Linked DNA regions of Homo sapiens: all the other regions are reported to be linked to region 3. Evidence: microRNA targets listed by miRTarBase, many of them from high-throughput screens and not tested one by one. Region 3 holds a microRNA gene; each other region holds the end of a gene's coding sequence. Distances are from middle to middle.
What was found. The annotated mature microRNA hsa-miR-6805-3p reads UUGCUCUGCUCCCCCGCCCCCAG and lies in region 3 at 3,538-3,560, opposite strand. An mRNA with a match to its seed (bases 2 to 7 or 8) in the 3' UTR can be bound and repressed. Matches are read on the target gene's strand: a 7mer-m8 pairs with bases 2 to 8, a 7mer-A1 pairs with bases 2 to 7 and ends in A, and an 8mer does both.

Region 1 (5,000 bases), not on the chromosome of region 3:
GCAAATACAGACAGCAATTTTCTCTTCTCACAGTCAGCACCTCCCTACTCCCTCCCTCATACCTTTGTCACCTGGCACATTTATACAGACTGGTTCCACAAAACACTTTTTAAATGTGCATTTCTTTAATTTTTAAAAATATACACAGGAAAAGCCATGTGTTTTACATAGGAATACACACATTAACAAAGCATTTCTTATAGTTTTCCAAAACTCTATTATATCAGTCCGAAATTTATAAATTAAATATATCAGAATTCTTAAAGTTAAAATGAATTCCCTGAAACTACTGGATATGCTACTTTTTCCAAAATCAAATGAACAGAGGATATGGATGTGGTTTGTGTTAAATAAGGTTTATTGTTAGCTTTATTGCCTATAGTCTATAAGATGCAACTTTACTGTGCCTTTGCAAACAGGATACATTTCTTAAAAAATTGATCAAAATTTTCCATACATATAGCTCTATATGATAGATTACAGTGCAACACTATTCTCGTTACATAATTATAGAAATACTATAGAACCCAAGAGCACGGGGTAAGCAAAATAAATACAATCCTGAGCCATCTGAACAAGATGATTTGATGAATCCTTTAGTGTAAGTTTAGAAAACACAGAGAAGGAAAAAAATACATGCATACTGCAGTCATGAGCAAAATACATCAAACACCTGTTCCTTGCTAGGTGCAGGTGGGGGCAATGGTGAACTTCAGACACATGCACACTCACTCACACTCCCATTTTCTTCTGCTTCCCTCCCAGCCCCAACACATTCATTCCCGCCCCTTCCCAAAAAAAAGATCAGGCACTAAATCCTAGTGAACCCCACAACTGCCTTGCTGGAGAAGGTTAAGTGACTGCTAAAGTAAGAGTGTATGTAGGTCCTCACCCATAACATGAAACAAAGCATGTGCTGTAAGCCAATTCCAGCTGCTTTTGCCTCTTTGGAAGTAAATGAAGCATATGCCCACTACAGCTTGAAACTGCAGTGGAAATGTCTTGAAAACAAAATTTTGTTTCTCTTGCTATGTCTTGAAGTAAAATCAACAGTGGAAAATTCATCCTAAAACTGCCTCATCTGCTATTAAAATACATTTGTCATTCTATTTTTGGTATCTATTCAATTATAGTTCATTAAGAACGGTTCATGAAGCTTGTACCTGCTTATGGTAAACATCAGTGTACCACACAAAACCTGCCACACCTAGACAGGCTTATGAAACACCAAATCTTCTATGTGTTCCTTGCTAACATTCCCTCAAGACCACAGCATTCTAGTGTTACCAGAGATAAAGTACGTATAGTTAAGTGATGAAAGAAAGGTATTTGGTTTGTGTCGTCACCTTATACATCCTAGTGATGAAACTAACCAAACTATGCCTCCATGCCTTCCCTGAAAATAACCTGAGTCGGCTGACGAAACAGACTGAGCAGCGTGGCTCTCAGTCCACTTTATCAGAGGTTGAGCTGGAAAACCAGAGGGCTAATGTAGTCTACCAGCAGCTTGTGCGGATAACCAAGAGTTCTTGGCTGTTGCAGTATCCACTGTCCCAAAGGCTAAGCCACTGAGGTGGAAATCAATCGCAGCATAAAGAAGACTGAACTTAAGCTGCATAACCTGCGAGACTACCTGGAGAGGACAAAAGAGGATCAGGATCCTCATTTCCCACAAAATGTGGTGTGGGTTTTAGTGTCTCTATGCATTAGCTGCTACAGAGAAGTTAACATTTACTTCATAGCTTTCTTATTTTCAATTAAATGCTCACACTCAAAAAATACACACCCTATGAATATGAGGTGGCTCTTTTCTTCAAATTTTTTAAAATAAAGAGGCACCAATACCCGTTCATTTATGTATTAGAAGTCTCGTATAATCACCAATAAAACAGAAATAGCATCTGTGATCACACAACGGAGAAAAAAGATCAAGAGACAACCTTAGCCACTGTAAAACTGTACTTGAACACTCAGATGCTCTGGCTAAGTCAGAATCTAAAGATTTGCTAATAAGGTTTTATTGGTTTAGCATAGTCCCATGGCCTTTGTCTATAACTGATATGTGGAAACGGTTCCCAAGGAAATTTAAGAAACCATTCTGAAATTCTGCCTTTGATGTACATTATAATTAAATGTGACTGTTATAAACGTTGCCTCTATCATATTATCTTTTGTAAAGTGGAGGCAAAGAGAGACAAAAAGCATCCTCCTGGACTGCTGACATGCAGAAAGCATCAGCGATGATAGGGTTGTGACAGCATTTATGGAGTTTCTAGGGCAGGGGGGACAGAATGCTGTATCTCAGCATCTTTGGTTAAGGTCTGGCCTCTTTAAATCCACCTCTCCCTCACATTTAGTCTCTCATGAATTTTAAGTCCATGCACTTGAAGACGGTCACAAGATATAATTTCCATATAATATGTCAGATTCATAAGAGTTTCAGATTTTTGGTCCTCACCCTGCCCAGTGGGAGTACACGGGCCTTACACAGAAAGCTGCAGAGTCCAATGCTTCAGTTAAAGCATGTTCTTTTCAAAGTTTTCTTGAGCTGCACAAAAAACCGTCAACAGTTTTTTGGCTCCCAGCACTGGGAGAGGGATAAAGCTGAGCTCTGGCTTTTGTCCTTTAAAGTGGCCCAAGCCGACTGTATGAAGAGTCTGGTCATCAAACACATTTACCACCAGCCTTCAGAGTACATCTGTCTCATTCAAACCTTACAGGAAGCCTAAACGTTGTGTAGGTGTTTGGGTGGAAAGATAAGAATAAGCTAAACTTGGCCTAAGGAGAAAAAGGGTAAAAAAAAAAAAAAAAAAAAAGAAAGAAAGAAAAATACAACACTCTAGGTTTTAATTCAAAGGAAAAATATATATATAATAAACTGGTTTACACCCTTGGTCAGACTGTTGCCTGGAATTCTCTACCTTCTCTTTCACAGTCCAAAGAGTTTGTCTCTGTTCTCTTCCTTCACTGCTTTAGCAAAGAGAGGGGGAACTTCAAAGAGGATTCCAACAGTGAAGCAGAATCATGGGGCAAAAGTCGCTATGGGGCCAGACTGAGGTTGGACCACACAAGCACTCCAAGCTGGGCCAATCCCAACCGCTGGTGAAGCCGCACAGCACGGAGTAGCCATCCACATAGGCCTGGCCACATGGTACTCAAGCAGAGGTTTTCCACAGTACTCTTTCTCCTCACAAACAAACCCCAGCTCTCCCAGGTAAACATTTTAGAAAAAACATCCAGGCTGGTGTACTACTGTAAAACGCTGCCAGTTTCTAATTAACTTAGCACCAAATCTGTGATTCCCCCTCCCTCAAACCAAGTCCATCTGTAGTTTAAAATGTGAAGTGCCACATTTCTCTTTGCTTCTGTGTTTTCATTTTCTTTGAAAGTATTCCTATTGATGTTCACTCCATGTCAGAAGAAATAAAGTTGCAAAATATTTGGTGATTTCCGTGTAACGTTCTTCTTATACTGAAGTAACTTCATGGGTTTCGGTCAGAATTATGTCCACAGAAGTCTTTTCCATGTAGTTCGTCATACAGAAAGACTCTTACACATGGCTATTTTTGGACAGTGCATAAATGAAGATACCTCACAAGAGAAAAGATCATTATCTGTATCCATCAGAATAATATACAGATTCACAGTCAATGAGATGATACGCTTTGCAGAAGAGAGGCATCAAACATTATACTATTCAAACACAAAAACAGCAATAAACGTTCTGCACTACAGAAAATTTGCTAGCTTCTAACTTTAAGGATTTAAAGTGATGGGTCTGGTAACTGCATTTTAGAACTGGAACATGCTGCTTTCCTTCCAGATACACAATGTTTGATGCTGGTGCACATATACAATACACACATGCACAACACTGTGTCTGCAATGATATAATAGGGCTACCAAGACCAAGAGAGTAAATATCAACTTAAGAACACTTCTAACTTTAGAATTTCATTTTATTAAACATACTTTTAAAACAAGCACCTCTTGGCAATAAAAGCAAAAACAAAAAACAAACAAACAAAAACCCAACCAAACAATAGTACTCCTTCCACTCTATGCTAACGGAAGACTTCTCACACCAGCCAGTTAAACAATGAAATTCTTAAACACGCAGCCTGCTGGGGCTGCATGCAGAGCTAAAATGCAGGTGTGCTGACTTCTTGGAGCTGGAGCAGAGGAAAACATCAAAAAGCATATCTGGAATCTATCACAGCTTTCTTTCTTAAGCAAATAAAAATGCAAATTAGTTTCATAACCACAATTCAATTTATCAAACTTTTTCTGAAGAATTTTCATTTAATTATGTATACATAACAGGAAATAAAACTTTTTCACAAACACTCTCAAGGCTTACGATTATCAAGAAAATGACAAAAGTAAAAGCAGGAGGAATATTAAACACATGGCGGGGAGGTCAATTTCCGTTTCTGCTCTTAAAAAGTAAAAAAATCACCATATAATTAAGTACAAAAACCTGCATTGAATGACAACTGCTGGTGTATTTACTTGATCAGAAATGAAGACCAAGAATATAATAAAGCCCTATGATAATATTCACCGGGAGCACTCCCCTCAGTGTGTGTACACTAACAGGTTGGCAAAGTTTCTGGAGCATTAGCTTATAGAAACACAGGAGTCCTTGGTTAGCTGCATTATATGGAACGTTCTCTTCTGAAATGCACCCACGATTCAGTTTCACTTACAAATTGCAAACTAAAGTTATCTCTTCAGAAAAATATCTGTTTGGCATCTCCTGGACTTTGTTCCATTGGACAGTAGGGACATTTTAATCTAAAGACAAAGAAGAAAACACTGAGTGAAGGAGCAGGCTCAGTACTGTGTATTCAATTTTTATCTAGTTATAGAGTATCTTTAACAATTATACACACATATAAGAACACACAAAAACAAGTCTGTTTGTATTTTGCTTTGAGGATGAACTATGCTTTCCCTTAATATAACTGCCAAGATTTGAAGGGTCACAAATACATACC
Region 2 (5,081 bases), not on the chromosome of region 3:
TAACTACCATGCTGTCTTTCCTTGTTTCCTTCTATTTTTTCTTGCTTGTCCTCTATCATGCAGTGCTGATACCAGATTTACAGAAAATATGGGTGAATCATTCCTTTGACACAGGTGTGGTGCAAAGACTTCTGCTGGAACTTTCTGTGGCTGTGACCTGGTGAGCTGGCTAATTGAAGTCGGCCTTGCCTCCGACCGTGGTGAAGCTGTGATATACGGAGACAGGCTGGTACAAGGGGGAGTCATCCAACATATTACCAACGAGTATGAATTCCGGGATGAGTACTTGTTTTACAGATTTCTTCAAAAGAGTCCTGAACAGAGTCCTCCTGCTATTAATGCAAACACTCTCCAACAGGAAAGATATAAAGAAATTGAGCATTCATCCCCACCCTCACATTCCCCTAAGACCTAAATTATGCAGGGGAGAACCCTACATGGAATCATATTCTAGCCGCGTATTCATTAGTTTTTAGCTGGGTGACCTTGGGCAAGTTAACAGAGGCAACCTCTCTGAGCCTCAGTTGTCTCTTCTGTAAAATGTGAAAAGATGTGCTCCCACCACATGCGCAGGGTCTGTGATTTTACATGTATGTAAAACACATAGGAAGCTGACTTAGGAAAAAGAGAAAACCAAATTAAAGTTCTGATAATGAATATAATATAGTCATCCTTTAGTATCCAAGGGGATTGGTTCCAGGACTCCTGAAGATCCCAAAATCTGAGGATACTCAAGTCCCTTATATAAAATGGTGTAGGCCGGGCATGGTGGCTCACGCCTGTAATCCCAGTACTTTGGGAGGCCGAGTCAGGTGGATCACCTGAGGTCAGGAGTTCAAGACCAGCCTGGCCAACATGGCGAAACCCCGTCTCTACTATAAAATACAAAAAATTAGTTGGGTGTGGTGGCGGGTGCCTGTAATCCCAGCTACTCAGGAGGCTGAGGCAGGAGAATCGCTTGAATCTGGGAGGCAGAGGTTGCTGTGAGCCGAGATCGTGCCACTGCACTCCAGCCTGAGCAACAGAGCAAGACTCTATCTCAAAAATAAAATAAAATAAAATAAAATAATTAATAAAATGGTGTAGTATTTGCATATAACCTATGCACATTCTCCCATATAGTTTAATCATCTTTAGATACTTATAATGCCTAATACAATGTAAATGCTATGTAAATAGTTGTTGTTATACTGTATTGTTTAGGGAATAACAATAAGAAAAACAGTCTGTACATGTTCACTACAGATGCAACCATTGTTAAGCCTGACTACATCTTTTTATCTGCGGTTGATTGAATCTATGGATGTGGAACCTGTGCATATGGAGGGTCAACTGTACTATAAATAATACGAATATGCCAACATTATATAATCATTGCTTTCTGCAACTGTTTACTATAATTTCAAAATTAATATCCTATTAACTGTTCCTATAAATTATCAAATTTGGCAAGTGTATTACTAGCAGGAGATGGACCTTAAATTATGACAACTTTATATTTTTTGATAGCATCTCTTGAAAAAGAATTTTAATGATTCTAATAAGAGGTTCTTTTTCTTTTTTCCATTTCCTTGACAAATAGTACTCATTTAAAAACTAGAGGGCTAGGCTTAGTGGCTCACGCCTGTAATCTCAGCACTTTGGGAGGCTGAGGCGGGCAGATCGCTTGAGGTCAGGAGTTCAAGACCAGCCCGGGCAACGTGGTGAAACCCGGTCTGTACTAAAAAAAAAAAAAAAGAAAAAGAAAAAGAAAAAAGAATACCCAGGTGTGGTAGTGCATGCCTGTAGTCCCAGCTACTTTGGAGACTGAGGTGGGAGTACCCCTTGAGCCTGGGAGGCGCAGGTTGCAGTGAACCAAGATCACATCACTGCACTTCAACCTGGGTGACAGAGCAAGACCCTGTCTCAAAAACAAAAAACAAGCAAAAAAAACCTAGAGGCACTATTTTTTTTTAAAGTTTGTCTTTTCTTTTCTACCCAAATTACTAATCTATGCCATTAAGGAAAGGAATAAGAACCTCCATATGTATTATTATCTCCACAGTCCTGCAGAAGTACAATCTGATCTTTAACTTTCATGCTACAAATAATAATTTGAGTAGATTAATTTGAATTTTATCAACAAAATTATTGCCATATGATGTATCATTTCTGTGTTTGAACAAAGCATCGTAATGCAGGATAACTTCTACTTTATTCCCTGTAGTTAAAAAAAAAAAAACTATATAGTTCAAGCCAATATTTAAAAATTCTAAACCTAGGCTGGGCATGGTGACTCATACCTGTAATCCCAGCACTTTGGGAGGCCGAGGCAGGTGAATTGCTTCAGCCCAGGAGTTCGAGACCAGCCTGGCCAATGTGGTGAAACCCCATCTCTACTAAAAAAAAAAAAAAAAAAAAAAATTAGCCAGGTGTGGTGGTGTGCACCTGTAATCCCAGCTACCCAGGAGGCTGAGGCAGGAAAATTGCTTGAAACCAGGAGGCAGAGGTTGCAGTGAGCTGAGATCGTGCCACTGCACTCCAGCCTGAGTGTCAGAGTGAGACTCTGTCTCAGAAAAAAAAAAAAAAATTCTAAAGATTACATTTAGAATTTAGTCTTTTTAAAGTGTCCATGTATAAAAATATATAATTTTTAAAATTACTAAATGTTGCCTTTTCTCTTAGTCTAATATTTTAGCTACTAAAACAAAATATAAACTGGATAGCTTATAAACAACATAAACTTATTTCTCACAGTTTTGGAGGCTGTGAAGTCCAAGATTAAGGCACTAACAGATCTAGTGTCTGGTAAGGCAAATTTCTGGCTCATAGATGGTACCTTCTTGCTGTGTCCCCACATGGTAGATGGGAAGAACTGGTCTCATTGGCCCCTTATAAGGACATTAATTCCACTCAATAGGCTCCACCCTCATGATCTAATAACCTCTCAAAGGCCCTACCTCCTAATACTAACACATTGAGGATGTGACTTCAACTTTACATTTCTACAGGCAGAGAAGTGGGGCTGTGTAAATTCTTCCCATCAGTACTTGAATGTTCATTTAACAAATAACTTATCGAGCATCTAGCATGTTCCAGACACAATCTGAACACTGAGCACACAACAGTTGGAACAAATATGATTCCTATCCTCATGGAGCTTCTATTCTCCTGTGAAAAACAGATGTTAAACATGATTGAGGATTAGGTTTCAACATAAGAATTCTAGGAGGACACAGACATTTAGACCATAGCATCTTCAGGTAAACTTTATCTTCAGTAAATTAAAGAGATCTATTTAGATGACCTTTGAGCATCTTAATTATTAGATGTCAGTGCTAGTTTAACTTATTTTAAACGTTTCAGATATTTATTTAATTATACTTTAAGTGTCTCATGTAAAAAAGTTATTTATAAAATAATTTATAGGGTTAGAGTCATTGCCCTTTTAATGCAACAAATAAACAGTTTTTTAAAAACCTGCATGGGGGCCAGGCGCGGTGGTTCATACCTGCAATCCCAGCACTTTGGGAGGTCGAGGCTGGCGGATCACGAGGTCAGGAGATCGAGACCACCCTGATTAATGCGGTGAAATCCCGTCTCTACTAAAAATACAAAAAATTAGCCAGACGTGGTGGTGGGCACCTATAGTCCCAGCTACTCGGGAGGCTGAGGCAGGAGAATGGCATGAACCCGGAAGGCGGAGCTTGCAGTGAACCAAGATCGCGCCACTGCACTCCAGCCTGGGCGACAGAGTGAGACTCCATCGCAAAAAAAAAAAAAAAAAAACCTGCATGGAAGCCTAGTATATTTATTAATAACAAATAAATTATACTTTAGTGTACTATTAACCTATACCAATTTTAAGTTGTGATTAGGGAATGGGGATGTTTTTAAGCTGAATTGTCTTGCTGCGGAACTTTCCTTTTTTAATAAGACCATATTATGACTCTGAATGCTCAAGGGTAAGTCTAAGGCCTCATTGCTGTTACCAGGAGATTTTTCTAGTTACAGTAATAAAGATGTTAATTCACATGCATGCAGACAACTGAAACTCAAGTGGAGAATTTGTTTGTGAACAAGTCATACTACTTCTGTTATTTGCATGAATGGAATCTGCAATATCTTTTTCCATGGGAGACCCTAAAAGAAAACCCTGGATCAGAATGATCTGCAGTTTCAGATAATAAAGGCTTTTAAGAGACATTTTTAGAATTAAAAATATGCTAATTTTATTAAATGAAAATATTTGTAACTGTTAACTTTCTCACTGACAAAGCAAGTTTCTCAATAAAATACCTATTTTAACTTGCATTACTGACATCTTTTCTTTGAGTAATCTGAATAATGCAGAAGCCATCATAGAGGTCTTTTCTATACATTCTCAATGTTTTCTTAAATGGGTTTCCTGAGTTCTGTTCTTCATGACTCTGGGCTCTGCAAACAGGGTTTCCCAATTACGCATTCTATAAACACTTTTATGAATGAGTCAATATGACATTGAGTCCTTTTCATACATTTCATCATTTCCAATATGTAGAGTGACAGCTAGAAAAATGATAAAATTTTGATTAAAACCTATCTCTTTTTCTTCAGCATAGTCAATTGTTTTCTTAACTCTCAATGAGTAACTCCATGCCTAGCTTGTGCTTAGCTTTCAATATTTTTAGACTAAGACAAAGTGTATTTGGCATTTTGAGAACAACAATTAATGGTCAGTAAATTTCTAAAGCAAGAAAAATGTGAAACTAGTGTTTTATATGTTTGTTACGCAGCAGAATGCGGCTCTTAGTGTTTGCCCCTTCATATCTCATCATGTAAAATATTAAATTACTTTAGGCCACTGCACATAGGTAGTCCTGTCATGAGTGATGGCTGGAGAAAAGTTCAGGATCATAAATGTTATCATCATTCTTCAAGAAAAGATGAGATTATAAATTTCTGCAATTGGTATGATAAAAGGTTGAAATAATTAATGAAAAAGAAAACATTAGCTCTGTAGACCTGTTTTGGGCACACTTTACAAGAAGAAACTAACTCTCCAAAATTCTAGGCTATGTAGTTATTTCTAAAGCAAAACTTTTGATTCATGATTAACATAT
Region 3 (5,088 bases):
ATCAAAATATTTATAAAAAGTCATTAATTTATTCCTACAATCAGGATTTGTGGGCACAGTCAAGCAGGTTTTGCACATTTAATCTTCTCATCAACCCTGAGTAGTAGGGTCTATCGACACGCATGTTACAGATGAGGGTACGAAGACACAGAGAGGTTGAGGAACTTGCCCAAGGTTGCACAGCCACCGAGCAGCAGAGCCCTGACCCAGTAGATGCCAGCATGTCCTGTGAACAGAGGATGCCTCAGTCCCGAGTCTCTGCTGCTGTGGGGAGTCTGGAGTCCCCAGCGCTCTGCACAACTTTGGGCTTGGCAGCCTTCCAGGGTGCGCCCTACGCTCACTCACCATGCAGCTACTGGACTAAGAGCTGGAGAGACAGCAGTGAACACTGAGACACCTGCCTTATGCAGGGCTGTGAAAGGCACTCAAAATGGCCTTTTACATATGGGAAACTGAGGCACGGTGCTACTAAACGAGCTGCCCAAGTCCCCACAGCTGGGCATAACTGGCAGAGCTGGGACTGGAACCCAGGCAGTTTGATTCCTGGCTTCCGTGAACCATTAGCCCTGAGCTGGGAATGCTGCCGGGCATCACTCTTGGGGATAGGATGACCTGGGGGAGGTTCTTTCAGCACTCTGGATGTGTCCCCACTGCCTGGGCCTGGTTTCTGATGAGGGCAGCTACTAACTTTATCAGGGACCTTCTGTATGTGACAAGACGCTTTTCTTTTGTTCTCCCAATTTTGTCTTTGGCTTTCAGCATTTTTACTATGGTGAGCCTGCCTGTTTTCTTAATATCATGTTTTTGGTTTAACTGGTTTTCCAATTTCCAGGCCAACAGACATGATTTGTGTGAATAAAGCTGGAATAGATGGCCCCATCCAACATCTCTCTCTCCAAGATGAGGTCTAGAGGAGGGAAATGGTGTCTCCACGTTTGCTCAGCACACTGAGGACTCCAAACTCTGTGGGGCTGAGACCATCTCCCTCCCTCCAGCCCTCTCCTGGTTCCTCCACCCCAACCCACCGATAGCATTCAGATACCAGACGTGGCCTCCCCAGCCCAGCCACACAGACAGGCTGGCCACCCGCAGGAACAGAGGCCCACTAAGCTGGGCTGTGTTACGGATGAGACCAGGGGAGGCCACACAGCAGGGAGGATTCAGATAGGGATGGAGAAAGCCAGCAGGACTCCACAGGGGGTGGGGCCTAGAGGCACAAGCCTCCAGGGCAGGCAAGGAGGTGGTTAAGGACAAGGCCTTCTGAGCAGCAGCAGCCACATCAGAAAGCCTCGAGCGCCTGTAATGCCAGCACTTTGGGAGGCTGAGGCAGGTGGGTAATTTGAAGTCAGGAGTTCCAAACCAGCCTGGGCAAAATGGTGAAACCCCATCTCTGCTAAAAATACAATACTGAGCTGGGTGTGGTGACACCCACCTGTAATCCCAGCTACTCGGGAGGCTGAGGCAGGAGAATCGCTTGAACCCAGGAGGTGGAGGCTGCAGTGAGCCAAGATCGCGCCATTGCACTCGCCAGCCTGGGCAACAGAGCGAGACTCCATCTCCAGAAAGTCTCCAGTGAGCAAACTCTCAGGACCGGTGGGCTTTATACATTCAATATGCACCATTCATCAAGCATCTCATTATATGCTGGTGTGCTAGACAAACCCCTTGCCCACCAGCACAAGACAAACATGAGACAGATAAACCTGCCAGCTTGTGGGCTGCAAATCAGTGCTGTGGAGGACAACTGAAGCAGGTGCCAGGGGAGAGGCCTCACGAGAAGGGGCCATCTACTAACGTGAGCAGTGAGCTCTCCTTATGAAGGCGGAGTCCCAGCGCAGTGAGGCCAGCCAGAGATGGGCCTGAGTGGGACTGGGACAGTGGGGGCTCCTGAGCAGGTACGAAGTCACCAGCGGAGTGAGGCCAGCTGGAGGTGGGCCTGAGTGGGATTGGGACAGTGCGGGGGGTCCTGAGCAGGTACCAAGTCACCCAACTCAGTTTTAAGGCAACACCTCTCAATCTGAGCTAATAGACCCAACTAAGGGAAGGACAAAGGAAATGGTAATTCACAGCAGACAGGGGCTGGCAAGTGGTCAGATCTGCTCTCCTTCGAGCTGGGCAAGACTGGAGCAGACAGGACTGAGGTCGGAAGGGCAGTGGTCTGCCTCAAAACGCAGGGCTCCCAGCCCCGTACGACCCCAACCAATGGCAAGTCGAGGCCCTGACAGTCCCCTTACTCTCAGTCAGAGCCGGGGGTGGTCTCAGACAGGGAGCAGAGTCCTTCTTTGAATCGGGTACCCCAGGATGGCAGGAACCAGGGGTGCCATGGATGCTGGATCCTTGGTCCCTGGCAGTGGCTGACAGAGTTAGGTGCCCAGGAAACATGTGAGGATCAACAGCAGGACTCTTTCCCCATCCAGGCCTCACTGTGTGTCATGGTGTCTTCCAGGCTGGAGTGTAGTGGTGGGGCTCATGGGCTCACTGCAGCCTCATACTCTTGGCTCAAGTGCTCCGCTCACCTCAGCCTCTACTCAACCTCTGAGGAGCTGGGACCACAGGCGGTGCACCACCACACCCAGCTAATTTTATTTTAGAGACGGTGTCTCATTATGTTGCCTAGGATGGTCTCAAACTCCTGGCCTCACAAGCTGTAATAAACACTAGGGAGCAAACAGGCCAAAGGAAACAAGAGGGCTGGGCAATCAGGAAAGCTTGGGTGACAGGGTGGCCCAGGAGCGGCCACTGAGATGAGACCTAAGTGACAAGAGCCAGCTCAAAGAGACAGGGGAGGGATGGGGACACCTGGAGGACGGGAGTAGGGGGACAATGCTAAGGCTGCTCAATGCCTGCTGGCTGTACCCTGGGGCTGCCATCTCCCTTACAGTTATAAGCCACCACCCACCAAGTTGCCCATCTCAGAGATGAGGTTGCATCAAGTAAAGCCCATCCCCTCCAAATGTGGCTGCACCCACTCCCTGGATGCAAAAGTCATCTCATCTTCCTCCCGTGATGTCTGTCGTCCCCCAGGTCTTGGGAACACCCCAAGTCCCCAAACCGTGCTACAGCACCAGGGCCCAGGGCCCAGCCCTCAGCCTGCACCCTTCTGGGCTAGAAAAGGCCTTTCTTCTTCTGAATGGAAGCCACTGCCCCAGCTGGGATTCTTCAGGCCACCTCACAATGGGACAGTAGGTCTCAATCACAAGTCAGCAAACTTTTTCTGTGAAGACAGTGACCCTTGCCCTCACCAGGGACAAGGCAGCTACCCCACCCCTCCTGCATGGCCAGCCATTGACATCACCTCCAGATGGACAAGGTGACATGCAGAGTTTTGATGACATGGCCTGAATGACAACACACAGGGCCAGAGCTCCCCAGAGCGTTTCAAAAAGGGAGGCCCAGTCGAGGCAGGTGAGAAAGCCAGCTGACTTTATTGCTCTGGGGGCAGGGGGCTCAGGAGCTCTTGGTGGGGCGGGTCCGCTTCCTCTTCACCATCACAGGCTTCTGGCTGCGCAGGATGGCGCTGGCCCTGCGGATGGCTGCCTGGGGGCGGGGGAGCAGAGCAAGGCTCAGCCCATACACTCCACAAGCCGCCCCCTAGGCCAATGCTGGGTGTGGGGAGTAGGCTGAAAGCAAGAATCCATCCCTCTCCAGCCCATATTGCAACCAGTAGTGGGAGGCCCTTCCCCACAGCACTGGCCAGTCTCCCCAAGCCTGATCCCCAAACCCCAGCTCACCATGCGCAGGTCGGGGCGGTACTTGTTCTTGCGGATCATGTGTCTGATGCTGCTGAGCGTGGCGCGAGCATTCTTGTTGATGGTGGTCCGCACATAGGAGGTGGCAGGCTTCCGCTGGCCTGGTTGGGGGTCAGGGAGGTCCTGGGGTCAGTCCACCTAACCTGCACCTTTAGCACACCTCGCAGGTGTGGACAGTCTCACATTGAGAAGCTGAGCAGCGTGGGCCCGTGGCGGGTGCCTGGGCAGGCCAGCAGGTAGCTGTTTTCCCACCTGTCCATTTCACAGAGGCTCACTCGTCATCACGGAGTACTGAGGACACAGCTTCTGCCACACTCATAGCCCAATTCTGTCCACCATGAAAACACTCCTTTCTCATGCCAGAAAGCTGCCGCTTCAGTTAGGATCTGATCCAGGTCCAGCCAGAGCCCACGCTCCTGGCAATGGGTATGAACAGCTTCCCAGGAACCCCAGGCCCATCCCCACAGCAGTGGTTCAACATCAGCTTGGCTGAGAGGCCCAGCCTCACTCAGGCCAGTCCCTTAGTCTAGGAAGGGCCACCCATGTATTCGGCAATCCAAGAGGTGAAAGCTTTCAGGACTCCCCAGAACGGGGTCCCCAAGTGCCAAGCAATTGGCTGCTCCCTGGACTACGTGTCCCTGAGACAGGAGGATCACTAGCCAACAGACTGCGTTTGTTGCTGCCACTGAGTAAAAGGACCCTTGGCTCTGAGGCAGTTCCAATCAAGGACCTGAGAAAAACTCACTCTAAAAAGAAAATACAGCCCTGTCAAGAACACATGTGAAGCTGGACTCCTCCATTAGAGACCCCCGACTCACACGAACATTCAGGGAATCCCCAAAAAGGCCTGCACCTGACAGCACAATGTATGGAGTGGGGTCCCCAAGACCTCTTCTCTAACCTACACAGGCAAAATGGGAATCAAATGGCTGCAACCAACCCAGCCTGTCCCCTCCTAAGTGTGGTAGCGAGGGCCCCTCCCCTGTTGTGCCTCAATCTTCCCACCTGTGGGATGAAACCATCCATCCCCACCCTGACTTGCTTTGAGAATTTCATCTGAAAACATCAACCCCGTGCCTTAACTCTCAACAACCACCGAGGAAGTTCAGGTCCTTTTTCATTTCTCCACTTTACAGGTGAGGACACGGGCTCAGACGCGCGCGGCTCACAGAGCTGACAAGTCGGCCGAGAGGGAAGCCGGTACCCAGACCAACACCCTGGCGCCAGGGATGCCCGCCGCGATGGCAGTTACCGCTCTTCCTGCCTGACAGTAAAAAATCACAGCTCCCAGACCCGGGAAAGGGGCCGCTCTCTGGCCCAAACCAGACAAAACTCACCG
Region 4 (5,088 bases), 20 Mb from region 3:
CTCCAGGATGCTGCCGGACTGGAAGAGCTCCTTGATCCTCATGGCTTACATCATCATCTTCCTCACTGGCCTCCCTGCCAACCTCCTGGCCCTGCGGGCCTTTGTGGGGCGGATCCGCCAGCCCCAGCCTGCACCTGTGCACATCCTCCTGCTGAGCCTGACGCTGGCCGACCTCCTCCTGCTGCTGCTGCTGCCCTTCAAGATCATCGAGGCTGCGTCGAACTTCCGCTGGTACCTGCCCAAGGTCGTCTGCGCCCTCACGAGTTTTGGCTTCTACAGCAGCATCTACTGCAGCACGTGGCTCCTGGCGGGCATCAGCATCGAGCGCTACCTGGGAGTGGCTTTCCCCGTGCAGTACAAGCTCTCCCGCCGGCCTCTGTATGGAGTGATTGCAGCTCTGGTGGCCTGGGTTATGTCCTTTGGTCACTGCACCATCGTGATCATCGTTCAATACTTGAACACGACTGAGCAGGTCAGAAGTGGCAATGAAATTACCTGCTACGAGAACTTCACCGATAACCAGTTGGACGTGGTGCTGCCCGTGCGGCTGGAGCTGTGCCTGGTGCTCTTCTTCATCCCCATGGCAGTCACCATCTTCTGCTACTGGCGTTTTGTGTGGATCATGCTCTCCCAGCCCCTTGTGGGGGCCCAGAGGCGGCGCCGAGCCGTGGGGCTGGCTGTGGTGACGCTGCTCAATTTCCTGGTGTGCTTCGGACCTTACAACGTGTCCCACCTGGTGGGGTATCACCAGAGAAAAAGCCCCTGGTGGCGGTCAATAGCCGTGGTGTTCAGTTCACTCAACGCCAGTCTGGACCCCCTGCTCTTCTATTTCTCTTCTTCAGTGGTGCGCAGGGCATTTGGGAGAGGGCTGCAGGTGCTGCGGAATCAGGGCTCCTCCCTGTTGGGACGCAGAGGCAAAGACACAGCAGAGGGGACAAATGAGGACAGGGGTGTGGGTCAAGGAGAAGGGATGCCAAGTTCGGACTTCACTACAGAGTAGCAGTTTCCCTGGACCTTCAGAGGTCGCCTGGGTTACACAGGAGCTGGGAAGCCTGGGAGAGGCGGAGCAGGAAGGCTCCCATCCAGATTCAGAAATCCTTAGACCCAGCCCAGGACTGCGACTTTGAAAAAAATGCCTTTCACCAGCTTGGTATCCCTTCCTGACTGAATTGTCCTACTCAAAGGAGCATAAGTCAGAGATGCACGAAGAAGTAGTTAGGTATAGAAGCACCTGCCGGGTGTGGTGGCTCATGCCTATAATCCCAGAACTTTGGGAGGCTGAGGCAGGTGGATCACTTGAGGTCGGGAGATTGAGAACATCCTGGTCAACATGGGAAAACCCCGTCTCTACTAAAAATACAAAAAAATTAGCTGGGCATGGTGGCACATGCCTATAATCCCAGCTACTCTGGAGGCTGAGGCAGGAGAATCCTTGAACCCGGGAGTTGGAGGTTGCAGTGAGCTGAGATCACGCCACTGCACTCCAGCCTAGCGACAGAGCAAGACTCCATTTAAAAAAAAAAAAAAAAAAAAAAAGAAGCACCTTCAGGCTGGAGAAGCAGCGTAGCTAACACAAGTCCAGTCCTTGTGATGTGGCTGGTAGTTGGGGATGGCCAGGCTGAAGCAGAGAGTCCTAGAGAAATCTCGATACAAGCTTCAAAGCAACACCTAGACACTGCTCTAGCGGTTGATCCTGGAGATAAACCAACAAGAGAGAGATGGAAGAGAAATACTAAATGAGGTCAAAGAAGACTCAGAAAGGTTCTGAGCCTGGAGATGAGCAGGGAGGCCTCAGGGCTTAGACCTTTAATGATAGGGGTTTCCCTGCATTGGTTTGACCTGTTGCCTTTTTGATGTGCTCTGTTTGTTTTCATGTGTTGTCTTGTCTCCCCTGCTAAACTGGGAGCTGCCAGGGGTCTGGGTCTTATCTCCTTCCTCCATGGTACCCCACACAGGCCAGGATGTGGTTTGGTACCCAGCAATCAGAGATTGGCACTCCCTCATACAGGGGAAAGCAACCTGGTCTAGCAAATTGAAAATAAAGATGATAAAACTCTGAAGTGAATGTCCACAATTTTTGTAACACTGCTGCAAGCACAGGGAGGGCAAAAATAGGAGAGAGAACCAGATTCAGCAGCAAAGGGGAAAAGTGATGCATCTGAAACCACAGAAACATCTTAAGATAAAGAGGTGGTGTGGGCAAAGGAAGTGAGAGCACTGACGGAATCGTCTTTCGAGGGATGAATAGAGAGTCCGGACTTAGAAAGGATGCAGGGTGATTCCGATTCACAGTCATCTGTCTGCCACAGGGCCTTAAAACATGTCACCCTCCTGCTCAGAAACCTGCAGAGCTTTCCTATCATCAAAATGTTTCCTTGGCCAGTTGCAGGGGCTCATGACTGTAATCCCAGCACTTTGGGAGGCTGAGGTGGGAGGATCACTTGAGCCCAGGAGTTGGAGACCCACCTGGGCAACACAGTGAGACCCTGTCTCTCAATTTTAAAAATTTAATTTAAAAAGATGCGTCCGGCTGGGCACAGTGGCTCATGCCTGTAATCCCAGCAGTTTGGGAGGCCAAGGCGGGAGGATCGCCTGAGGTCAGAAGTTCTAGACCAGCCTGGCTAACATGGTAAAACCCCATCTCTACTAAAAAGACAAAAAAAATTAGCCGGGCATGGTGGTGCGTGCCTGTAATCCCAGCTACTGAGGAGGCTGAGGCAGGAGAATCACTTGAACCTGGGAGGCAGAGGTTGCAGTGAGCCGAGATTGCGCCACTGCACTCCAGCCTGGGCAACAGAGCGAGACTCTGTCTCCAAAAAAAAAAAAAAAAGTGCTTCCCCCAAGGAACTCATATTGTACCATTCTTTTCCTTGCTTTGTCCTCTCTCTCCCCTTCCAGTTCTACCTGCCTAGCTCATTTTTCCACAATAAGGACTCCTAGACCATTCTCTCTAGTTAAATGACCTCCAGCCCCTAACCTAGTAGTTTGCAACCCAGGCTGTACATCAGAATTACATGTGGAGGTGTGAAAATAATACAGAGAGCCACCTCCAACCTACTGACAGAATCTCTGCAGGTGGGGCCCCAGCAAGAGAGCTTTTCAAAAAAGCACCCCAGGTGGCCAGCTGGGGTCGCGAATCGCTGTCTTATCTCAGAAGCCAAATCTGTCCAAGAACTTGTTCTTCAAAAACCTTGCCTGCTTATTCATCCCCCCTCACCTCAATCCCACATTCTTCTACCTGTTTTTTTGTTGGTTTGTTTGTTTTTAGAGTTGGGGTCTCACTCTGTTGCCCAAGCTGGAGTGCAGTGGCACAATCATGGCTCACTGCAACCTCGAACTCCTGGGCTCAAGTCACCCTCCCGCCTCAGCCTCCCAAGTAGATGGGACTACAGGTGTACACCACCACACTCAGCTAATTATTTTATTTTATTTTGTGTAGAGATGGGGTGTTGCCCAGACTGGTCTTGAACTCCTGGCCTCAAGTGATTCTCCTGCCTTGGCCTCCCAAAGTGTTGGGATTACAGATGTGAGCCACCACACCTGGCCCTCCCCCATCTTCTGGTGCTTGCCTCTTCTTCACTTACAAAAATCCACTCAATATTCACTTTCTCCAGAAAACCTTTCCTTATTAGTCCCACTGAACTGAAAGCTCATTTTCTATTTTCCTCCTTCAAAAGAAGACTGGACAGGTGCCATAAGAACCCTGAATTCAGTGTCCATTCCACTTACTAAATGGATGGCCTGAAGCAAGCCACCTCCTCCAGCCTCTATTTCTAAATCATAGTGATTAGGATACTACATACCTCCCAAGATTATTCTGTGGATTAAAATAAGACTCTATGAATAAAATTGCTGAGAAATCATAGAATATTAAGTAGTTCTAAGATATAAATCCATGTACACAGATGTACCCTCACTTATTAGAAATATAATAAGTAAACATTAAAAATAGTGGAAATAATGCTGGGCATGGTGGCTCATGCCTGTAATCCCAGCACTTTGGGAGGCCGAGATGGGCAGATCACTTGAGATCAGGAGTTCAAGATCAGCCTAGCCAACATGGTGAAATCCCATCTCTACTAAAAATACAAAAAATTAGCCAGGCACGGTGGCAGGCACCTGTAATCCCAGCTACTCGGGAGGCTGAGGCATGGGAATCGCTTGAACCTGGAAGGCAGAGGTTGCAGTGAGCTGAGAACGTGCCACTGCACTCCAGCCTAGGCAACAGAGAGAGAATGTCTCAAAAAAAAAAAAAAATAGAAATAACATAGTAGGTAGTCAACTACGGATAGCATGGCAGTAATATGTTTTAAAAAATCTGGGATTCTCAGCTGACTGTACATGCACTATGAGTCTGTGATGTATTACAGCTGCCACAAAAGCTAATTTGATTGGATTACATGAAAAGAAATCATGTTGGCCAGGCACAGTGGTTCACGCCTGTAATCCCAGCACTTTGGGAGGCGAAGATGGGCAGGTCATGAGGTCAGGAGTTCGAGACCAGCCTGGCCAGCACGGTGAAACCCCATCTCTACTAAAAATACAAAAAATTAGCTGGGCATGGTGGCGTATGCCTGTAATCCCAGCTGTTTGGGAGGCTGAGGCAGGAGAATTGCTTGAACCCGGGAGGCGGAGGTTGCAGTGAGCCGAGATCACGCCATTGCACTCCAGCCTGGGCGACAAGAGCAAAACTCTGTCTCAAAAATAAAAAGAAAAGAAATAATGTCTAGACAAGTTGATGATACTGAGGCAGAGCAGGTGTGCTAAGTGGGGCTTGGCCCATGAGGGTTCTTGGTTTTGCCCAGGAAAGAATTCAAGGGCTAGCCGGTGGTGAAAGAAAACAGCTTTGTTGAAGCAGCCCTGTTACAGCTCCAGCCCTGTTGCAGCTCCGTGACTGCTCCTGCAGAGCAGGGCTACCCCACAGGCAGAGAGTAGCAGCTCAGGGCAGTTTTGCAGTCATATTTTTGCCTACTTTTAATTGCACACAAATTAAGGGGCAGTTAACACAGAAATTTCTAAGGAAAGGGTAGTAACTTTTGGGTTGTCAGGTCATTGCCATGGAAAGGGGTGGTAATGCCCAGGTGTTGC
Region 5 (5,076 bases), not on the chromosome of region 3:
TCCTCCTTTGTACTTCTTTTAGGTTTTAGGTTTCTGTGCTAATTTTATAACTCCTTTTTCCCAACTATTTCCCCCCCTCCAAAGAAATACAGCCCCTCGGACCCTGCATTTGCATATGCGCAGCTGACCCACGATGAGCTGATTCAGCTGGTCCTCAAACAGAAGGAAACGATAAGCAAGAAGGAGTTCCAGGTCCGCGAGCTGGAAGACTACATTGACAACCTGCTTGTCAGGGTCATGGAAGAAACCCCCAATATCCTCCGCATCCCGACTCAGGTTGGCAAAAAAGCAGGAAAGATGTAAATCAGCAGAAAAAAAACACCGAGACGTTTCTGTGACTTCACTTTCACCTGCTCCAGGGGTCAAGGACTTGCCTTGCCTGATAACCAGCCAGCAGGCTCCGAATCACCATCTCCCTCACATGTTATCCGGCAAGAGTGAATTCTACCAATGGAAGCCAGGTTAATGATTACAATTAATCTTTTACTGTACATTCCCAAGGCTTTAGTTTTAAATGCCACTGTGCCTTTAACAAGGTTGTAAATATTTTATGCCCACCAGAGATGTGGTCATAAGATCTGATCCTGAGCCAGAGATTCAGATGGCACAGGAAGTATTCATGTATTTTAACACTGGGGTTTTCTTTCTTTCATACTGAGATTTTTTTTCAGTATGTATCCTCCAGCTCTTAAAGCTTACCTGAGAAAGCTTTAAATGAGAAAAGGACCATGCGATTGGTGCTGTGTTACATACACATACTTTCTTGGCTTCTGAGTAGCTCAGGTGTGGCTTTTGGCTGCAGATGTTAAATTTTGATACCATGTAAACCTACCCAGCTTCTCAGACTTGGGTCTTGTTTTTTGATGGGAACAGAGGTGTTTAGAGAAAGCCTCTGAGTATGCCTTTCAGATTTTGAACAAGCGGCCTTTTCTAAACATCGACTTCTACTACTCTCTAGCCTTAAAATACCTTCTGCTTAGATCCAGGGCCCTTCTACTGGAGATAGGAAAAGTAGAATTCAGGAATTAAAAGAATTACTCTTTATTCAATTTGAGGAACTTGGTGAAAGCCCCTCCTCTTATGACAGCCAGGTTCCTGCTGGCTAGACCAGCCTATTCAGCGCTTTGCTAGGGGATTGGGTGGTCCACGCACTCGCTAATACAGTTCTCCAGGTGTGGAATGATGTCAATACGATTGCTTGGCCTTTTCCCCCTGTGCCTTTGCTCGGTGCTCTGGTTTCCTCAGCAACACTCCTTGTAAGGGGCAGAGACAGGGTCCACCAACTCCCCAAGATGAAGAAGCCCCTTCAGGCCAGTCGTGGTGGCTCATGCCTGTAATCCCAGCACTTTGCAAGGCCGAGGAGGGTGGATCACTTGAGGTCAGGAGTTCGAGACCAGCCTGACCAACATGGCGAAACCCCATCTCTACTAAAAATACAAAAATTAGCTTGGCATGGTGGTGCGTGCCTGTAATCCCAGCTACTCGGGAGGCTGGGGCAGGAGAATTGCTTGAACTTGGGAGATGGAGGCTGCAGCGAGCCAAGATCGTGCCACTGCACTCCAGCCTGGGCAAGAGTTTTTTTAAGACTCTTAAAAAAAGAGCCTGGGCAATTTTTTTAAGACTCTGTCTTAAAAAAAACTAAAAAGAAAAAAAGAAGCCCCTTCACTCTACAGGGGACAGGAGACCATGGATTGGACCCCAAAGGGATTGAACTGCATCTGCATGTCTGTCCTTTGAACACTTTCTCTCCCTGCCCAAAAGGAAACCCAAATTATTTGTGGGATACTGGGGAAATTGTAGTGAAGGGCTTAATGTAGTTAATAAAAGTTAAAAGTCAGTAGAAAACAGGTGCCTCAGCCTTCAAATGGTTGCTTTTTTTCCATTTTCCCTCATGAATAGACTCACCAGCATTTTACCCCCTTGTTATAAAACTGTGCAGAGCAAGAAGATGATACTTATTTTTGAATTTGTATTTTTAAAACTAGATTTATAGACTTTTTTTTTTTTTAACTAGGGCACTTGCTTCCTTCTTAGCTAAAAGCACCAGCTGAGATTTTTCAGGTAATTTTGTTGTTACTCACTTAAGACTGGAATTAGAATGTTTCTGGTATTTCTCATTTTTTTCCCTGGCTATGATAGAATCTCATCTAATCTTGACATCTCTCCTAGGGGAAGAATATCACAGGCTAATAGCGTGGTTGGGGGTGAAGATGATAGCAGTTATTAAATCAGGAATCTCTTTTATGTGTGTCCTTGTTACATTGAGGTTAAGAGACAAAATCATTGGCAGTGCAATCTCTTTCCAGGATTTCGTTTGCTGTGGCATTGGTTATATCAGAGCACTTTAATCTGAAGGATGATACTGTAACTTGATTTATCTAATTAGCTTTTAATTATCTACAGCTATTTTATTTTATTTAATTCTCTCCTACAGTACTGGGACCACTGTAAACTTCTCAGATGACTTGTATTTTTGTAGTGCTATGAAATTTATTTACATACTTATAAAGAAAACTGTATGTTCACTTGAACTCTGAAAATGTACATGTATGGCTGGACGCGGTGGCTCACGCCTGTAATCCCAGCACTTTGGGAGGCTGAGGCGGGTGAATCACTTGATTGAGGTCAGGAGTTCGAGACCAGCCTGGCCAACATGGCAAAACCCCGTCTCTACTAAAAAATACAGAAATTAGCTGGGTGTGGTGGCAGACAGCTGTAATCTCAGCTGCTCGGGAGGCTGAGGCACAAGAATCGCTTGAGCCAGGGAGGTGGAGGTTGCAGTGAGCTGAGATCACATCATTGCACTCCAGCCTGGGCAACGGGCGAGACTCTGTCTCAAAAAAAAGAAAGAAAGAAAAGGTACATGTATATATTTGTCCTGCATTATGTTTTTTACTTGATATAAATGTATTTTTACTGTGATAGTCCAAGTGCCCTGGGGGGCAGGTGTGCTCTATGTGGTTCTTCTTCCATTGGAGAGCTGGCGTAGAGATCTGCAGTGTTCACAAGGATGTTGGTTTGGAGATGTCTGCTGCTAGGACCTGGGGTGTGTGACTCAGTCCATATGAGAGGGACATCTGGGTGGAGGAGTAAATTCCTGTGCTCTGAAATGCCACTTGGTAGCTCTGGACAATGAAGGACAATTGACTCAAGGGTGCCTGGCTTCTGCTGCTGCTGGGAAAAAATTCAGTTTATAGCATTCCTGCACCTCCCAAAGTAGATAACCTGGAGGTCATTCAGTTAACAACTGTCCCTGAGGACTCAGTTTTGGGGGAGGGGTTATCTGGGAGAAGCTTTAGCCTGTTCTGAGCCATTAGGAGACATTAGTGAATTGGAGCACTGGAGAATCCTACAAATGGCCTATGTCTCAGAAGAGCTGGGACCTCCTTCCAGCTGCTGCAGATGCTGACAGGCCCTGGGAGGCTGCTGTGCTCTGGAGAAGCTGGAGCAGCTCATTTCTTGGCCTAGCCTGGCTGCCTCAGAAAGAGCAGTCAGGACTTGAGGGAAGCATCAAATTCTATACCCATAAACTGCAGTTGGAAGTCAGCTTTTTGAAATGTCCAGCCTTTGCCCAATTGTTTCAGATCATCTCATGCCTCAGGCTTTGGCAGGTATCCTGCCCTCCATCTTATTCCAGTGTGTTCACCTCATCAAGGCAGCAGAGTGGATGAAGGAGTAAGTCTGCCCTTTGCCATACTGAACAGCTGTGGACCCCGATTGGTGAGGGCTCTGCATATGCCTGTATGAAGGAGATACAGGTGTGTGTGCACATGCCGGTATGAAGAAGACACAGGCATGTGCTTCTCAGTTTTGCTAACAGTGGGAGCTCAACGGGGCAGAGGGAGGAAGGTCCATGATGCTCAGCCACATACTGTAGAGAGAGGCAATTTAATGTTAAATGACGCACCATCCTCCCTCCCACCCTTCTCCCAGTCAACTTTTTTTCTTTTTCTAGAACTACTAATTATCTCTCAAGGCTGAAAAATTAATTGCCTTAGGTGGAGAACTTAATTCCTAGTATCCACCAAACTTAACTCCGTATCTCCATATGGTGTCTCCATATCTACTGTGTGAGCTACTTAACTGACGCCCTCTTCCTCCAACTGAAGGATCGCCCAACGTTTTTGGATTATAGAATTATTATTTCCTGCTTTCTTTCTTTGGGACTTTTGAATTTCTTTGGTTTCGTTTTTAAGAAGTAACCCAACATTTCCTACAACACTAAATAAAATGGTACTTACCTTTCAAAGATTTGTGTCTGTAGTTTGGTATGGGTGCAATAAAAATTTATTTTGTCTTCCTGGAAAACCTCTCTTGGTGGGGGTGGGGGGATGACCAGTGTTTCTCATCCCATGAGGGTCTCTCACTGGGATTTCTGTTGCTGCCATCTTGCCTGGTTCCCAGGAGTCCCAAGGCCCTTTTTCTCAAAGAGGACGGACATGTCTGGTCCCTTCGGATGCACCCTTCATCTTGGCCTGAGGGACCATGGCACTGGCCAGAGAAACTGAGTTGGAACGTGCTGCCCCCTTTTCCTTTGCAGCCGGTACCCTTGGCTGAGCATTTGGACAGGGTCTTTCCTCAGTTCCCACCCCCACCACACACACAGGTTCCCACAGAGTGATGTCTTCACTTTGGGGGCATGAGTTGAATTCAGGCTGGGCTCAACTGCCCCATCTGGGAACCAGGTCCTTGTTCAGTTGACTTAGTTTGTCCATGTGTGAATAGAGGGTATTAGGGATGCACAGGAGTCTCCTGGAGTTCATCTCTCCAAACCCCAGGCCTTTCCCAAGGAGGTGAGAGGTGTGCCTGCCCCGCGAGCGGTGCACGTGGTCCACACTCCAAGGTCCCAGACCTCTTGGAATGGAAGTGATACCTTTGCTCTTAGAGATGAGTCACATTGTAGAGAGACAGAGGCAGGCGGTGCCTGTGAGACTCCTGGGCTGGGATGGGGGAGCTTCCCTGAAGGCCTCCCTGGTTTTGGTGGAGAGGCCTGGTGATTCCAAGTGGACATCGACTGCCATGTGTAGTGACATGAAGACACTTAATAAATTTTATTTTATTTATTAAATCTCTTAA
Region 6 (5,088 bases), not on the chromosome of region 3:
TTTTGAATCCAATGAAATTAGAATCGTCTACCAATAAGGAGACTACTGGGTGCTAGACTTAACTGTCGAAACACCGTTCCACATGACAGAAATCAACACTTGTCTGTTTACATTAACCGAGCAGAGCTTAGTCACCCATCACTGGATTCGACCTCGAGCAGACAGCTCTACCTGACTCAGGGTCGGAAGAGTGATACAAGGTGTGCAACATATGAAGCTCCTAATGCCCATCACTAACAAGTGACACGGAGGCAGGGGAAACAGAGAGTGCCGCTACCGATTCAGGTCACGCAAAGGAGGGAGGCTCTTTCAAGGTCTTGCTCCAACTTCACGTTTTCACATTATTTCAGAGTAAGAAAAGAAGTGGTGCAGACAACTCAAGAAATAAAATGGGCAAAAATTATACACATCTCTATTTACTAGGAGAAGTAAAAAAATAAAACAACCCCTGTGTTGAAACCAGGCAGTATTGGAATCAGGAGGTGAAGATCTGTTTCATAATCTAGTGATTTCAAGAGAGTGTGTCAGATCAACGGAGATGAATAATTGTGCACAAATACACGAGCAACAGCATTGGCTTGACTCTAAAGGAGGACCAGAATGTGTCTCTACTTCCACTGCTAACGCCCCTCTGCAGAAAATGTTCAGTGTGCGTGGCATCGTGCTAGTCCCACCTGGATATACTAATTTATGGACGGCCTTTTCTAGCCAATGGGTAGAGAACAAACTCCCAGGTTTGGAAGCCAAGCCTCTCTGAGGAGGCACAGAAAAGAACTATCCGATGTCCACGTTCAGTGTGTACACACAACACACAGAGACAAAAACAGAGGCCAGGCTCCGTCAGAGGACACACTCTAGCTGAGCAAAGGCTGCATTCGGCAACTAGGGTGGTGTAAACACCTCGGATCTCACTGCAGCCGGAAGGAAGTCACGGCATAGTCCCTTTTCAGGAGTCTGAGGGATACCACTTGTGTTGCAAACCACAGATCCCAAGTATTAGACGTATTCCCTTCTTGGTGGAGGCCTACTCTAGAAGAATCAAAAACCGATGACCCTCTCAGCGAATCCGATGTTAAAGCTCCTAACTAGGTGACCCTTTAGCACTACAGACGTAAAAATGACTCTAATGCACTCCCTAGAAAAGGCAGTGAAGCAAAGGGGGCTGCTGAGAGTTTACATGGTTTTCATATAAAGAGGCTTTTAACTTTGGAAAAAGCGGGCCTGGAAAGAACACTACCCCCATTCCAGTTGACGGCTTTTTAAGTACTTTGTGGCCTTCCTGCCGCGGTGCAAAATGAGGTCTATTTTAGGAACTGGCTTCTTTACTGCGGGGTTAGATGCCAACATTTCACCAGGGTTGGACGATCTCACACATGAGTTTCTGGCACTTTTAGGAGGGATTTCCTCAAGTGATACACTAGGGAATGAGCCTTTCAGCAAAAAGCGGTTCCCCGGAGTCAGTTGCCAGCTCCAGGAGATTAATTGGCCATTTTTTCATATGTTTTATGTGCAAGATATTTAATATGGGATGAAAAATGGAACACGAGGAAAAGCAGGTATTAGTTTGGTCTGAAAGAGGTGGTAATCCACAGATTTGCTTTTGTTTCGACAGTTTCTAAGCAGTGGAACAATTACCTAACAGTGCACCAAGTAATTTGTTAAAGTTGAAAACAGTAAGGGCGTTCATGTGCGCCAAGGTATTCTGGGCTGAAAACAGCAATTTTGAATTTTCATGGCAGACCCAACTCCTAAGCTGGCTCCACTCTGTCCTATCAGATTTTGGTGGTGGTGGCAGAGAATGTCATAGGCCTGTGGCTGGCACCGACCAAGCTGTCAGGGTGGTACGAAAAGGAGAGGAAACAGGAGTGCTGGACATGGACCCAGCTCTGGGTAGCTGATGGTGATAACACATCGATTTTTTGTTTCCCTTTTGAAAATAAGCAGAAAATGATGTGGGTGGAAAGTCCTCCTTAGGAGTTCACAGGGACTGCTCGTATTTAGCAGGGCCCTCTAAATGGGGACTGGTGAAAACAAAGATGTTTTGAACGGGGATCCAGAATTTCGCCCTTGACTCTCGGCAGGTATGACCCTGGGTGCCTGTGAGCTAGGAGAGGAAATTCTGTATGCAGGGCAAACATGTTACAAGGGGAGGAGATGGCACTGCACTTCAGGTCTCCAAATGCAGTGTGCTAGGAATGGCCTCGCTGACAGTTGGAATCACGGATACATTAATTACAGCGAAGGCAAAAGTAAGCTACAGTGACAGGGAGCTGGGGGCGGAGGGAGAAGGCACTTTGCCATGGGAGCACATCTGTTTTATAATAAGCAGGTCTATAATTCTCTTGTGAAAGATCATGTTCTGCTATCTTCTCTGAGGCTGGAAAATATAAATACTGTATTTTACCAAGAGGAGGAGGAAAGGAGATGATCAAATTTGTTTGCCTGTTGCCAAGTGTTTGAGATTTTCCACCCTTTTTCTTTTGTGTGCAACATTCTCTTTAACTAGAGTGGGGGAAAAGTCAACCTGCTTTTCTAAGGGTAAAAGGCACCGTCAGGCGTCTCATGAATAGGGCCCTGGCCTTTTAACAAGTTTTCAAGCCTTGGTTGCGGCTACTGTATAGTCAGAAAATAAATGCATGTATGGTGTTGAGCTATTAAGGTGAAATGTGTGGCCTGGGGCCAAAGGAACTGGTGTGGGTTGAGAGGTAAAATGCTTACATCTAACTGCACAAAAGTCAGTCTGAAATGTCACATCTCTAGATGGATGGAAGTATCATGAGTTGGGGTCTTGGGGAAGCGGCGTGTGGGGGAAAGGAGCAATGGGGTTGAATGTACCAAGTATGTTGTGAGCCACTGATCCTAATAGCAGCAAAACTACTAAACCATGAAGACATAGAAGGCATCTGCTCAGCGCGAAAGCTACAGAATCTTCTCATAAAGTCTACTGAGAACTGTTCCATTATAAACATATTTTTCTTGCTCTAGGGAGAGTTAAGGGGAAGGAATGGGAGCTGTCAGGGTCCCAGGGCTGTCCTACCTGCCGTTTTGGTCACAGTGACTGCCACGTGCTCTTCCAAGGGCACTGCAGCTGGAGAACACTACCTGCCAAATAGCAAAGCAGATCTCTTTCTTACTCCTATTATTTATTTTAGCACTCTTTGTTTTACTTCAAGGTGGCAATTATATATGTGTGTGTATATATATATATTTATTTAAATAATATTAGATCTAATTCATTAATTATACTTGTAAGTTTGTATTTTCTTAATAGTCCAAAGTTGGTATTTTGAAGTTCCACATTACTCTGATTTTTTAAACAAAAAAATGAGAAAGCAAGAATGGTCACATTGACAAAGGTCGAAATGAAAGTGCAGGAAGAACAACGAGAAATAAAGCACTTAAAATGAATAGGTAGGAACTGCCTCCACAGGATTCTGAGAAAAGAAACTAAAACGACCCTCTTTGGGAATATACTTACTAGATAGCCTTATCTACCAGTCTACACGACGATGTCTTTAACAACCACCCCAGGACATTTCCTCCGGCCAGCATCATGAAAAAAATCATAAATATCAACCATGGGCACCCGTTGAAAACTGTTAAGAAAGCCATGTGTACAGCCTGGAAAACACGGTGGAGCGTCACATCATTAGGTGGGTGATGGGATTAGTACCGAAAAACAGACCGACAACACGCAGTTATTGGTCGCAGAGGTTTCTTCTCTTCTCAGGAAAAAAACTTCTGAGATTAACTTCAAAACCAGAACCAGCCCTCCTCATAAATGAGGGGTGTATGCTTTCTGTCAGAGGGGGCTTGGCTCCTGTTTCCAGCCATCGGCTCTGCTTACGTGATTCCCCGCCTCCACAGGAGGAACTGAGGCGGGAGCGCCACGGACACCAGGTCCTGGAAGGACCCAGCAGTCTCTTGTGTTTTGAAGGTTTTCTTATGAAACAGATGATGATGGGTGCCTGCCTCAGTTACCTCAGCCTCTGTGAAGGCTAAAAATAAATAACACAAAAATAACCTAAAGCACTGTTTTGTGCAGGAAATGCTTCCTTTTGTGTCTTGGGTAATAAAATGTACCGAGAGACAGAGAGAAAAAAAAAGTCTGAACTATAAAGCATTGTGTATACCACGTTTTGTCTGGGAGCAAGCAGCTGAAATTCTTGGCTAAGTGTAATCCAGCTATTGGTAGTTTCTCGAGCCACAGAGGTTCTGTGGATCGTCTGGACAATGATGTACACAGAGCATACGTACAGGACGTATAGGTATTTGCGTATATATAAATAAATATATATATCTATATCTAGTTGAAGAGGATACATACTCTTCTTCCAAAGGGGTCTAACTGGCTAGTTAGGAGGCCGCTCTGGGGCTGATGGATTGTTGATTGGTGAATCCCTGGCCTTCGGGTCGGCTGGAGTCAGGTGTTCTGGTAGGACAGCTCGAACATGGTGCAAGCCTCCTCTAGACTCTCGTCCATGTTCAGTCTCTGCCAGAAAGACTTCTGCTTCTTCTGCAGCTCTCGGCGAACACACCTCGGGCAGGGGACAGACTTTTCTTTGCATTCAGAATGGAAAACGGCTCCACAGCTTTCACACCTGCAAAAGTCAACCATGGATATGATGAGCAAGACTGAAGCCAGCAAGACACAAATGGGAAGCCCTGTGGCCTCAGGTGCAGCTGGTGGCACAATCTACTGTTCTGGACAACCCTGCCAATGGGAAGGGAGATGACTCACTGAAATGAACTGTTTGTTTTTCCAAAATGCTCAAGGTTGAATTTCACTTGAAAAACATTTTTGCTTTTCTGATCTGAACTAGGGCTTATGAGTGGGGGGGAGTCCGCAGTCACCCAGCAATTCTGGTTATAGTGACAATGGACAGAACACCAGAAGCTCTCCATTGAGAAGGGAATTGGCAGTGACTCTAGAGTGAAATGACAGAAAATGAGAGGGGAGTGCCTCGTGAAAACGCTCGGCACACCAGTGACAGCCACAGCGTTACATCCATGGCGAGGCAGCTTTCTACATCAGTTAACACGAGCTAAGTGGTTCTCTGTTAACTAGCTGCCTTTATTTGACAGTTT

Region 1: miRTarBase lists RMND5A as a target of hsa-miR-6805-3p. Seed matches in the 3' UTR shown: 7mer-m8 at 1,976-1,982.
Region 2: the mRNA of GPR155 is a reported target of hsa-miR-6805-3p. Seed matches in the 3' UTR shown: 8mer at 1,023-1,030 and 8mer at 1,889-1,896.
Region 4: miRTarBase lists FFAR2 as a target of hsa-miR-6805-3p. Seed matches in the 3' UTR shown: 8mer at 1,496-1,503.
Region 5: the mRNA of RAB11FIP1 is a reported target of hsa-miR-6805-3p. Seed matches in the 3' UTR shown: 8mer at 1,937-1,944 and 7mer-m8 at 2,336-2,342.
Region 6: miRTarBase lists PLEKHM3 as a target of hsa-miR-6805-3p. Seed matches in the 3' UTR shown: 7mer-A1 at 2,977-2,983.

Annotation. Positions count from the first base shown.
Region 1 is chr2:86,773,145-86,778,144 of GRCh38, reverse strand. RMND5A (required for meiotic nuclear division 5 homolog A) reads right to left here. Exons shown (of 9, transcript NM_022780.4): 9 at 104-4,797. The coding sequence ends at 4,734. Among named protein-coding and RNA genes, the nearest start is that of CD8A, 15 kb to the left of the region's middle.
Region 2 is chr2:174,431,450-174,436,530 of GRCh38, reverse strand. It overlaps GPR155 (G protein-coupled receptor 155), which reads left to right. Exons shown (of 16, transcript NM_152529.7): 16 at 115-4,960. The coding sequence ends at 415. Among named protein-coding and RNA genes, the nearest start is that of SCRN3, 38 kb to the right of the region's middle.
Region 3 is chr19:55,386,692-55,391,779 of GRCh38, reverse strand. It overlaps MIR6805 (microRNA 6805), which reads right to left and starts at 3,599; the gene lies at 3,538-3,599. It overlaps RPL28 (ribosomal protein L28), which reads right to left. Exons shown (of 5, transcript NM_000991.5): 3 at 5,087-5,088; 4 at 3,732-3,850; 5 at 1-3,537. The coding sequence ends at 3,448.
Region 4 is chr19:35,449,708-35,454,795 of GRCh38, forward strand. FFAR2 (free fatty acid receptor 2) reads left to right here. Exons shown (of 2, transcript NM_001370087.1): 2 at 7-2,060. The coding sequence starts at 8. The coding sequence ends at 1,000. Among named protein-coding and RNA genes, the nearest start is that of FFAR2, 4.0 kb to the left of the region's middle.
Region 5 is chr8:37,858,122-37,863,197 of GRCh38, reverse strand. It overlaps RAB11FIP1 (RAB11 family interacting protein 1), which reads left to right. Exons shown (of 6, transcript NM_001002814.3): 6 at 85-4,580. The coding sequence ends at 303. Among named protein-coding and RNA genes, the nearest start is that of BRF2, 11 kb to the right of the region's middle.
Region 6 is chr2:207,823,896-207,828,983 of GRCh38, forward strand. PLEKHM3 (pleckstrin homology domain containing M3) reads right to left here. Exons shown (of 8, transcript NM_001080475.3): 8 at 1-4,601. The coding sequence ends at 4,424. Among named protein-coding and RNA genes, the nearest start is that of FZD5, 57 kb to the left of the region's middle.